Homo sapiens: one gene and its partners. The protein of the gene in region 1 interacts with the protein of each later gene in a pairwise test. Each region holds a gene or a part of one and is shown on either strand. Other genes may lie near its edges.

What was found.
Region 2: the proteins of GPR37 (region 1) and GLP1R interact in a protein complementation assay, tested with the Homo sapiens proteins (one study listed by BioGRID).
Region 3: the proteins of GPR37 (region 1) and SLC8A2 interact in a two-hybrid assay, tested with the Homo sapiens proteins (one large-scale study listed by BioGRID and IntAct).

Annotation. Positions count from the first base shown.
Region 1 is NC_000007.14:124,759,172-124,762,822, reverse strand, and holds part of GPR37 (prosaposin receptor GPR37 precursor), read left to right. Parts: intron 1-3,651.
Region 2 is NC_000006.12:39,072,708-39,076,358, forward strand, and holds part of GLP1R (glucagon-like peptide 1 receptor precursor), read left to right. Parts: intron 1-154; coding exon 155-308; intron 309-902; coding exon 903-1,062; intron 1,063-1,606; exon of another isoform or gene 1,607-1,674; intron 1,675-3,651.
Region 3 is NC_000019.10:47,427,462-47,430,801, reverse strand, and holds the end of SLC8A2 (sodium/calcium exchanger 2 precursor), read left to right. Parts: intron 1-336; coding exon 337-713; 3' UTR 714-2,785; downstream 2,786-3,340. UniProt on the Homo sapiens protein: Mediates the electrogenic exchange of Ca(2+) against Na(+) ions across the cell membrane, and thereby contributes to the regulation of cytoplasmic Ca(2+) levels and Ca(2+)-dependent cellular processes.

The DNA of each region.
Region 1 (3,651 bases):
TGTTCCAGGCCTAAAGCTGGGGGATAAGTAAACAGAAAACAGTACCTACTTAGACGGACCAAAGCTGGAGACAGTAAATAAGACCCTCTGTTATCTTGACAGGGATCAGGTGCAGGATCATTCCATGACTATGAAATCAGCTGTTGCTGCTTTAGCAGCGTCCATGATTTCTCCTGTTGCCAAGCTTGGCGTATCTCTGAAACATCTACTTTGTTTGGTAGACAATTCATTTTTGAATTGTGAAGGAGCCAGTTGAACTCATGTTAGAGAATATGTGTCTATTTACCAAACTGCCTCTTCAAGGTCAGTTTCAAATTTCTTTTTTTCTTTTTTTTTTTTTATCAGAAGAAATTGACTTATGCAAGAAAGAGACAAAAGTATAAAGCGGACAAGAGAGGTACCTCAATGACAGAGAAGTGTATTGGCTTATCTCACTGGAAATGTACTGGACATGTAGAAATCTGTATACACTAGAGGGAAAAACAATAGGACAGAAAAAGGAAATTGGGGAAAGAAAAATAAAAACACCAAAGTTCTTGAAAGAACACCTTAAAAGAAAAGAATATCAAATTCAGGAAAGATTATAAAAACTTTGGTTAATTTAATGAGATATAAGCATTTTGAGCAATGGCATTTATTATGTACTTATTTTAATTTTCTTTTTCCGTAATTCTGAGTTTGTACAAATGTAATACTTTCTTTCATTTGTATTTCACTTTTTAATTTAATCAGCTCCTCCTTAAGAGTGCTTTGTTTTTTGCCTCTTATTATTAGTAAAATCTTTTACTTTCTGTATTTTTGCTTAACTTTTCCCCATCCTAGTAGCTTTCTCTATTTTTCAGTTATTAGTGCTAGCATTTATTTTTCTTAGAGAATCAAAGGCTTAAAAAATTCACTCATTTATTTTTTAAAATTACAGTATAATATACATTTTTACTGTTAAAATAGTGAATGAACATCTTAATATGTAGCATTTCTATATTTCTACCTAATCCTTATTACTCTGAAATAATTTTAGAATGGTTTATAAAAATAATTATTGGACAATATTGCTGGCTTCATAATTCCTGATTACTGAGAACAAGAACTACAGTCCAAATCTCAAAATAAAAGTGTGTCTCCAGGAGGCACTGATGTTTTCACAAAAGTAAGAGGTATTTAGGGTTTCTCCTACGTTGGGTTCCTGCAAAAACAGGCCCTGAGATGTAGATTTATTGGGGCATCAAGTTTATTGGGTTGTGCTCTCAGGTTCAACCTATTAAGGAAAGAAGAAAGCAGGATTGGGCGGGCAAAGGGAGAAGTTGAACTGTGATGCAATTGCCACAGAGACCTCAGCTGACACCATTAGGAGCTTTAGGGCTGGGATGGCCATGCAGCCATATCCCAAATTGAGGCAAGAGGGCTCAGCCTTTACATCTCTTTATGGACCAGTCATTAGATGTAAGACATTGGATGCAAGCCTGCTCCCAGGATGGGGTATAACCTTGAGTTGGGTGGATCTCTTTGGTCAAGGGCAATTCCTAGAGAGGGATGCAGCTAAGCACTGTCAACCAATAGCCCCAGCAGCTGGAGGAATCAGTGCTTCATTCTTGAAGGACTTTGGAGGGAGCTGTCTGGGTGGAAAACCACAGCATCCACTACAGTAGCTTTTTTTTTTTTTTTTTTTTTGAGACGGAGTCTTGCTCTGTCACCAGGCTGGAGTGCAGTGGCACGATCTCAGCTCACTGCAACCTCTGCTTCAGGGGTTCAAGCTATTCTGCCTCAGCCTCCCAAGTAACTGGGACTACGGGTGCGTGTCACCACACCCGGCTAATTTTTTTTGTATTTTTAGTAGAGATGGGCTTTCACCATGTTGGCCAGGATGGTCTTGATCTCCTGACCTTGTGATCTGCCCACCTCTGCGTCCCAAAGTTCTGGGATTACAGGCGTGAGCCACCACGCCCAGCTTACAGTAGCTTTTGAACAATCATGTTAAATCAGACATAGATAATGTTCTAATCCAACTCCCTCATTTTAAAGATGAAATTTGAAGCTCAGAGACTATCCTAAACATATATACCTGGTCAGTAGCCACCAGACCCTTGGTCTCAATGCTTCATGTTTATATTTGCTGATTAGACCAACCTGTATGAAGCACAAGCTTTATCCAGTGAGTGTTTTCTTTTCCTTTCCGCTCCTTGGCATCTGAAAAATTTTTTCTTTTTTTAATCCACTAGACAGGAAAAAATAAAAACCCGTAAACATCATTTGTTATATAATGAAATGTATAGCTTCTTTTGTTTCTCATAAACTGTCAGTAAGTTCTGCAATTGGTAGTTAATTAAAATTTTTTAAATTGCAGTAATCTGAGACAACTATACTTTTTAATTTGCCTAGCATGATGACTTTAATGACCAAAAAGTTATATAGGTTAAATTTTATGTTCTTAAAATCATGAAGTATGTTAGATTGGTGAAGGACATTACAAGTACATTACATTTGTTCAAACTTTCTCCAAATCCCCTTCCAAAATTTTGCCTCTGACCTCAAGACTTTTAAAAATTTTTTGACATCTTGTCTACTTTCATATTTCTAAATTTTGCCATTCCTTCACTTGTTACTTTCTTATTTTATTTCTTGGCTATTTTTCCTTTCTTTAACTATGTATAATACCTTCTTATAGATTTATGATGTAGCATTCACCATTTTCCAGTAAGATGTTTAACCTTTTTCAGTGTTTTTATTTTTAATTTTTTCGTAGTTAATTTTAAATTTTATTCTCAATAGATTATGATTGAATTTTATAATTTTTCTCTCCCAGCTTCTCTTTTGCTTTATTTTTCTTTTCTACCACAGTTCTTTCTCCTGTACAGCTTGAGCGTTAGCATAATCTGAAGGGAATCGTGGGATTTTGGGGAAGATTTGGGTTTGTGTAGAAAAATATGAGGTACTTCTTGAGTAAAAACTATACTTTTTCTAATTTTCATTCAACTCCTCTTTCTATTTTAATTTGTTGGCCTAAAGCTTGAGGATAGCACCCAGCTTCCAAGGTCTATTGTGAGAAAGGAAGTTTTATGATGTTTAATATTGCCGTGAGTGAGAATGTTCTGGGAACTGTTGTAGTTGATGACTTTTCCCTTTCTATTCCAGGATTATGACATCTTTATGGCCTAATAATAAATCTCATAAAGTCGAAGGACAAATGAAATGGTAGGAAATGCCAGATAGGAGAGAAGAAAATTTGGATAGATCATGGCCGTCCTCCTAGACACATCAGTTTAAAGTGGTTTATTACTTAGCCACAAGAAAAAAACTATACTCAAAACAAAACTTGTATATGTAGTGTGCTTTTATGTGTATTAGGGGAGGTGGAGATATGTGTGGGTGTGGATTGCAATAGGAGAATGGCAGAGGAGTTCTCTACCATACCTACCATTCACTTAGGAATCTAACAAGTGTTTAAAACCAAATAATTTGGGCCAGGTGTGGTGGCACACCCCTGTAATCTCAGCACTTTGGGAGGCCTATGCAGGCAGATTGCTTAAGCCCAGGAGTTCAAGATCAGCCTGGCCAACAGGGCGAAACTCCATCTTTACAAAAAATACAAAAATTAACGGGATGTGGTGGTGCATGCCTGTAGTCCCAACCATTCAGGAGGCTGGGGTAGGAGGA
Region 2 (3,651 bases), on another chromosome or scaffold:
CGATGATGAGGAAGAAGGGTATTCATAGAAGAAGACACACGCACAGTCCCAGGGCTGGAAACATGCCTAATGTGTGTGTTAGCTTGAGAGCCTGGGGTTGTAGAGCAGAACTGTTGGCTGCCTTGCCAGGGAAAGGCCCTGCTTTCTCCCTCAGACACCTGCACTGCACCAGGAACTACATCCACCTGAACCTGTTTGCATCCTTCATCCTGCGAGCATTGTCCGTCTTCATCAAGGACGCAGCCCTGAAGTGGATGTATAGCACAGCCGCCCAGCAGCACCAGTGGGATGGGCTCCTCTCCTACCAGGTGTGTGGTGCATCCAGGACCGCCTCAGGAGGGATGGGCGGTTGGAGGAGGCCTGCCTCTGCCACCCTAGACAGGCCTGGGACAGGAGAAGACAAGAGCCGAACAGTCCTGGCCCTTCGGGAGCCCCCAGTCTGATGGGAGAGGCAGTTCGCCTTGGGACCCTCCAGTCTGCTGAGAGAGGCAGTCTACCTTAGGGAGCTCCCAATCTAAGGGAGGAGACACTGCCCTAGGGAATTCTCAGTCTGACACAAAAGAGTAGTCTTTGGAGACACACTTGAGTTTGAATGTCAGCTCTGTCACTTACTATCTGTACACTTTTAGGCAAGTCACTTACTTCTCTGAGGCTGAGAAATAGGTGAGAAGTCACTTACTTCTCACCTGCAGGGGGATACATTACTTTCTTCCAATCAGGATAGTGAGGATTCAATGAGCTAAAGCAGATAAAGTCCTTAGCACTAGCCCTAGCCAGAGATGTGAGCTCTCTCCTCCTGCATTAACCATGGCAGGATAGTGGCTGGAGCAGGACGGGGAGTGGTATCAAGAGAGGCAGAGGGCAGAGCTGTTGTCCCCATGACACCCTTCCTCTACCCCCAGGACTCTCTGAGCTGCCGCCTGGTGTTTCTGCTCATGCAGTACTGTGTGGCGGCCAATTACTACTGGCTCTTGGTGGAGGGCGTGTACCTGTACACACTGCTGGCCTTCTCGGTCTTATCTGAGCAATGGATCTTCAGGCTCTACGTGAGCATAGGCTGGGGTAAGAACCGCCATCACCCACCCTGGACCTGTGGCACGGGGGTGGGAGACCTTGACCCCTCTTCTAACATGGTACTTGGAACGCACTGCTGAGCAAGGGGCAAGGCCCACTGGGTAACCCTCTTCCTGGGCACAGGACCTTCTGCCCCGGTGCTGTTAAGATGCCGTAGGGGGTTATGGTCCTCCCCTCCTCTGCATAACTCTCCTCCCTTAATGGAAGCCTCCACCGCATGTGGCCAAACACCACCCTCTACCACTATCATGCACACCACTGGAGGTCATGGCACTGTTCTCTTAAGACCACATGGGGACATAAGTTCACACCCAGTCCCGGGCAGCCCGAGGGCCTGAGGGAAATGGTGAGTCCTGGGCCTCAAGGTGGGGAGGGGATCAAGAGGGTAGGGGGCTGGCTGGGGGGAGCCTGCTGGTGCTCTGTCACATGACGATGAAGAGGAGGGCTCAGAGGAGAGCCAAGTACAGTGGGGCAGGGGGGCCAGAGGCCAGCCAAGGAAAGGGTGGACGGCGGATGTGCCTGGAGCCCAGCTGGAAATGTTCTAGCCAAAAAAGTTTGCCAAGAACCATTGTGTCTTTTTTTTTGCTGGAACATTTCTGGTTGTGCTTCTGCCTCTCACCACGTGGGATTGTAATGAGGGGCAGCATTGGGGTTGGGAAGGGGGCTGGGATCCCCTTCACCCCTGGGAAAACATGCAACAGGCCTTTCTGGAGGGACCCACGGTACCCAGAGAATAGGCCCTGCCCTCTGTCCTCCCTAATCTGCCATTGAATCCATGAGTTTTCCTGTTCCACACCATCCCCCGCCCTGCTTGCCACTCCTTCATTCACTCCTCCTTCCTTCATGCGCCCACCTCACGCTGCTCTGACCACGGCTGCCCCTGCCACGGACCTCCGGGGACTTTCCAGCTCAGTCACATCCAGACTCCTCTTCCCTGACAATGGTCCTGTCCCTGAGCCTTTGCAAGGCTGTTCTCCATGCAGGAATGTTCAGGGAGCATCCTTCCCACACCAGGGTGTCCGCTGCCTCTTCAGGAAGCTGCCTCAGGCCACCAGTCCTCGTGGTTCTGTGCTCTCTGCCCTCTCAAGCTCTCCATCCCCTGTCCTTGCACTTCATTTATTTTTACTGGTGTTCCTCAGCCATTTTTCTCTATACAGCTCCCCCCACCCCCCAGGAGAAGAGTAGCCTGAGAGATTTTAATGTGACCAGTGTCTTGAGGACACCAAGGCCCAGAGCTGGCAGGGCCTTACAGGCAGAGCAGGCCCTGGAACCCAGGCCTCCTGACTCCCAGGCTCTGGGCCTGCGGCCATCATGCCCTGTTCTCTTGCCTGGGCTGCATCCCTTCAGTCCCCTGCAGCACCCCTGAGCAGGCTCAGGCCTCTGCACAGGTGGGCAGGTAGGCCTGGCTCCTGCTCACAGATCCCTGCTCCTCACCTGCCTCCTCCACTCCCAGAACCCAGTCCCTTCCTTGGCCTTTTCTCCCCGAGGCTTCTTCCTCCTGCTAGAGCAGGAGGAGGGAGGCCATCGAGGGCAGCTCAGGGAAGGCTGTCTTCAGGGTGGGGGACGGTGTCTGTCCATTCTAGGAAATAGCATCAGCGCTGTTAGTGCCTGTCACCATGGCGACCCGAGGGCAGGAACAATCAAGGGACGTGTGTGATGTGTGCAGAGGAGCGGGGGTGGCTGGAGTTTGGTGGGGACACACTGCCCTAGAGGTCTCTGAGTGGGAGATGGGGGAGGGAGTGCCAAGTCCTTTTCCTACCACCTCACACCCTAGCTCAGGGCTCGGGGTCTGTGGGAGCACAAGGGCAAGACCCGGAGGACACCCTGCTCTAATCAGAACACCTTTTTCTTGAGGATTGGGGTGGGGGAGACGGAGAGAGATTCACAGGTTGCTAGGAGCTCAGACGTGATGCCAGGAGGCCTTGCCCAAGCTGGGATACTTGGGAAACAACTTTCAGCTTCATGTGCAAGTGGAAGAATTAAAATTAGGACTCTGACACAGTTGGAGAGGTCCCCCAAAGGGCATGGCAGCTTCTGCTGCAGTCCCCAGGCAGTTGGGGGCCTGTAGAAACCCACATGGAGGCTGTGCAAGAGGGAGGCAAATGATGGTTGAGGGAATCATTACTTCCTGGAGCCAGTTGTGTGTGTCTTAATTTGAGCTTTTTTCTCCAACCTGTCTTGCTCGTTTTCTAAATGGGAGAAAGATGAAGCCAGCAGGGAGTGCGTAATGTTTGCATGCAGCAGGGCTTTCGTGACTGTGTTTTTTGAAAAGGCCTTGTTAAGGAAATGCTGACGATGAGTGAAACTTGCCAGGTCTGGCTGATAACATGGGTGAGTGCCCTGATCCTGGAAGGAGGTCTCAGAGAGAAGGGACAGCAGGGGGCGAGGGATACCCAGAAGGAAGCTTCTGCATGTGTACGTGGTTCAGGAAATCGGCATGCTCTTGCCCAGACAATGTTCCTTCCCTTATTGGTGTGTTGACTCACCCATCATTCGTTCCATTCTCACTGGGCATCTTCTATGTGGCAGGGCCTGTACCATGTGCTGGGGCCTTTGGAGACCATCCCATTCCTTGTC
Region 3 (3,340 bases), on another chromosome or scaffold:
TGAGCTGAGATCACGCCACTGCACTCCAGCCTGGGTGACAGAGCAAAACTCCGTCTCGGAGGAAAAAAAAAGAAATCACGCAGTGAGTCCCATAGAAGAGAATGAATCCCACAGAAAGCAGGCGGCAGGTCCCATAGAAAGCCGGCAGCGGTTCCAGTGGCGAGCAGGCCTAAAGGTGGTGATGGACTTTGCCTCTTGGGTGGGGGTCAGGGGTCTTGAGCCCACACTGCCCGCAGAAAGCAGGCGACCGGGAAAGGCTGGGAGGGGGCAGGCGGATGCCCGCCCCTGTGGGTGGCGGCGCAAAGCCCCTCCGACCTGTATGTCTCTGCCTCGCAGACACGTTCGCCAGCAAGGTGGCGGCGCTGCAGGACCAGTGCGCCGACGCGTCCATCGGCAACGTGACCGGCTCCAACGCGGTGAACGTGTTCCTTGGCCTGGGCGTCGCCTGGTCTGTGGCCGCCGTGTACTGGGCGGTGCAGGGCCGCCCCTTCGAGGTGCGCACTGGCACGCTGGCCTTCTCCGTCACGCTCTTCACCGTCTTCGCCTTCGTGGGCATTGCCGTGCTGCTGTACCGGCGCCGGCCGCACATCGGCGGCGAGCTGGGCGGCCCGCGCGGACCCAAGCTCGCCACCACCGCGCTCTTCCTGGGCCTCTGGCTCCTGTACATCCTCTTCGCCAGCCTGGAGGCGTACTGCCACATCCGGGGCTTCTAGGGCCTCGCGCAGAGACTCGTCCCCACCGCCCGCCCGGGGCTAGGGACTCGGCTGCACCTGCTCTTGGACCCTGGTCTCCTTTTCCCCCCAGACTCGGCCTCCTCTCCTGGGACTCGGCCTCCCTTCTCCGCCCCCTCCCCTGGCTTTGATTGCCCTGTTCTGTGTCCCCAGTAGCTCAGCCTTCCCTCTTCCTCTCGGGAGCCTCCCCGGTTCCTCCCCTGCGGTGACCCCAACTCCAGCCCATCCTGTTGGTGACCGTCTATATCCCTGGGGAAATTTCCACCCCAGTCCCCTCCCCAGGGAACCACCCCCAGTAACCATCCTGGGGAGTTTAAGGTCTCTCTCCTTGGTCACCCAGCCTGGCTTTGCCCCCAAAGTCTCCCTTCCCCTAGTGACCCCCCCCCCACTTCACCCCATGTCCCAGAGCCTCAGAACCCACCCTCCCTGGGGGACCCTCGAAGGAGGCTGTCAGAGGCCGTCTCAGCTCCCAGCCCTTCCCCCCAGCCCTCAGGGAGCTCCGCTCAGCCCCGGCGGGGAGGAGCGGGTGGGTGTGCGCGCAAGGAGGCCGCACACCGTTCCTTCCAATCCCTCCACTCGGGTTCTTGGGAGGACACTCATTCTCCAGGCTCGGAGACGAGGGGAGAAGTTTGGGGTTTCAGTCCCAGGGCTTAGCCGGAGGAAGCACATTTTGAACCTGCAACTTCAGACATTCCAGCTCCCCCACTCGCCCTCCACTACCTCTGAGAGCCCAGCCACGCCTTGGAGGGAGGGGCTTGTGTGTGTATATAGTGTGTTTGGGGGAGGGGGGACGCGGGAGGGTGCATGTCTTGGGAAAAGGGGGTGACAGACAACTTTTGAGAGGGCAGCAGACTCCCTCAGCCATGAGAACCAGCTTTGGGGAGGAGGCCGGGAATCAAAGCGAGTCCAGTTGATCTCCCCTGACAATCTGGAAGGTTCCTTTTGCCCTCAGTGCCAGCCAATCCGGGCAGGACCCTCGAAGAGGAGACCGAGGGTCCCAGAGGACCAATGCTACAAGCCAGCAAATGCTGCCACATCTCTGCCTGATGGGGGGTGGGGATGGGTGGGGGGATGGGACTGGGCCAAGGGATCTGGGTGGGCATTTTTAACTTTGGAGGCCTTCCATCTGTCGGTAGGCCATCTGCATTTTCTTACTGTTGATGTTTCCTGCCCAAAGGACACATTTGGGCAGTGCCACCCACTCCTTGGGCCCCTAGGATGACCCAACTACCCCCATAACTTTCTGCTTCCCACAGGTTTTCAGCATTCTATCGTCCTGTTGTGCTCAGCCCCAACATCCCAGACCCGTTACCCACTACCCTTCTCTCCCCCAGCTCATCATCAGTCGCTGTCTCTTTTCTGTGATTTCTGTAAAAGTTGCCATAAAACTTTGAAATTCTGCCTGAAAAACAGTCCCGTGGGAAGCTGGGATTCAGGAGGAGGGGGCTAATAAGGTCTCTGACTGAGATTTGGGCAACTGTTAAACCAAGTAATCTGGGTTTTTGCGGCCCGCGGTCGTCTGCGGGACACACCCACATATAGCAGCAGCGCCGGGGTCCAGCCGCCAAGCTCTTCCACTCGCCACGCCCCCATCAGTAATGAGCTTCCACTAGCCACGCCCCCATCCGTCAGCCTAGCTCTTCCACTAGCCACACCCCCATCCATCAGTCATGGGCTTCCACAAGCCACGCACCTCCACTCTCCATGCCCCCATTCGTCAGTCGTGGGTTTCCACTAACCACGCCCCCATTCATCAGCCAAGCTCCTCCACTTGCTACGCCCGCATCCGTCAATTACGGGTTTCCACTAACCACGCCCCCATTCATCAGCCTAGCTCTTCCACTAATCACACCCCCACTTATCAGTCGTGCTTCAGCCACGCCTTCCTGCTTCAGTCAGGGGCTTCCACTAGCCACGCCCCCATGCATGAGCCACAAACTGTTTCTCTTTATGGGCATCCTGGGAACACAAAAGAGAGACGTTCATTTGCCTGAGCCAAAGAGCTGGGGTTGATGGGGTTTCCTAAATAAAGCAAGTAATTTTCTCAGATCCTACAGGAGGAGGGGTGTGTGTGTGTGTGTTGTGCCAAAGGACACAGCCTGTGTAAAGGTGTGCAGAGTTGGGAGATAATGGCTTTTTCAGAGCCCTGGAAATGGTTATCATGAACGAGGTATGGGGTGCGTGGGGAGTGAACTTGAGGACAAATCATAAGAGACTTTATCAGCCACTCTAGGGAGCTTGGAATATATCCTAAGAGTAAAGGGGAGCTTTGCAAGGGATTTAAGTGGGGGAAGGAGGCAGGCGGTTGATATCACCTGATTTATTTTATGAGACGTTCCTCCTGGCTACTGGGGGCTGGGAGACCAGGGACAAGGCTGGAGCAGGGACAGAGGCAGCAGACGAGGGGAGAGGGGAGTAGGAGGGTGGGAGGGCGATGGTGAGAAGGGAGTGGTTGAGAGAGAGAATGGATGGGGCTGCGTGAGGGAGTTCAGGGAGTGCATCTTGGCAGGAGAGAGGTGGTGTGTTCATTCAAACGGAGTAGCCAGGGAGAGTTGGGTGAAAGGGCTACTGAGGAGTGGGCAGGGTTGGGGAAAACGAGGGAAGGTGTA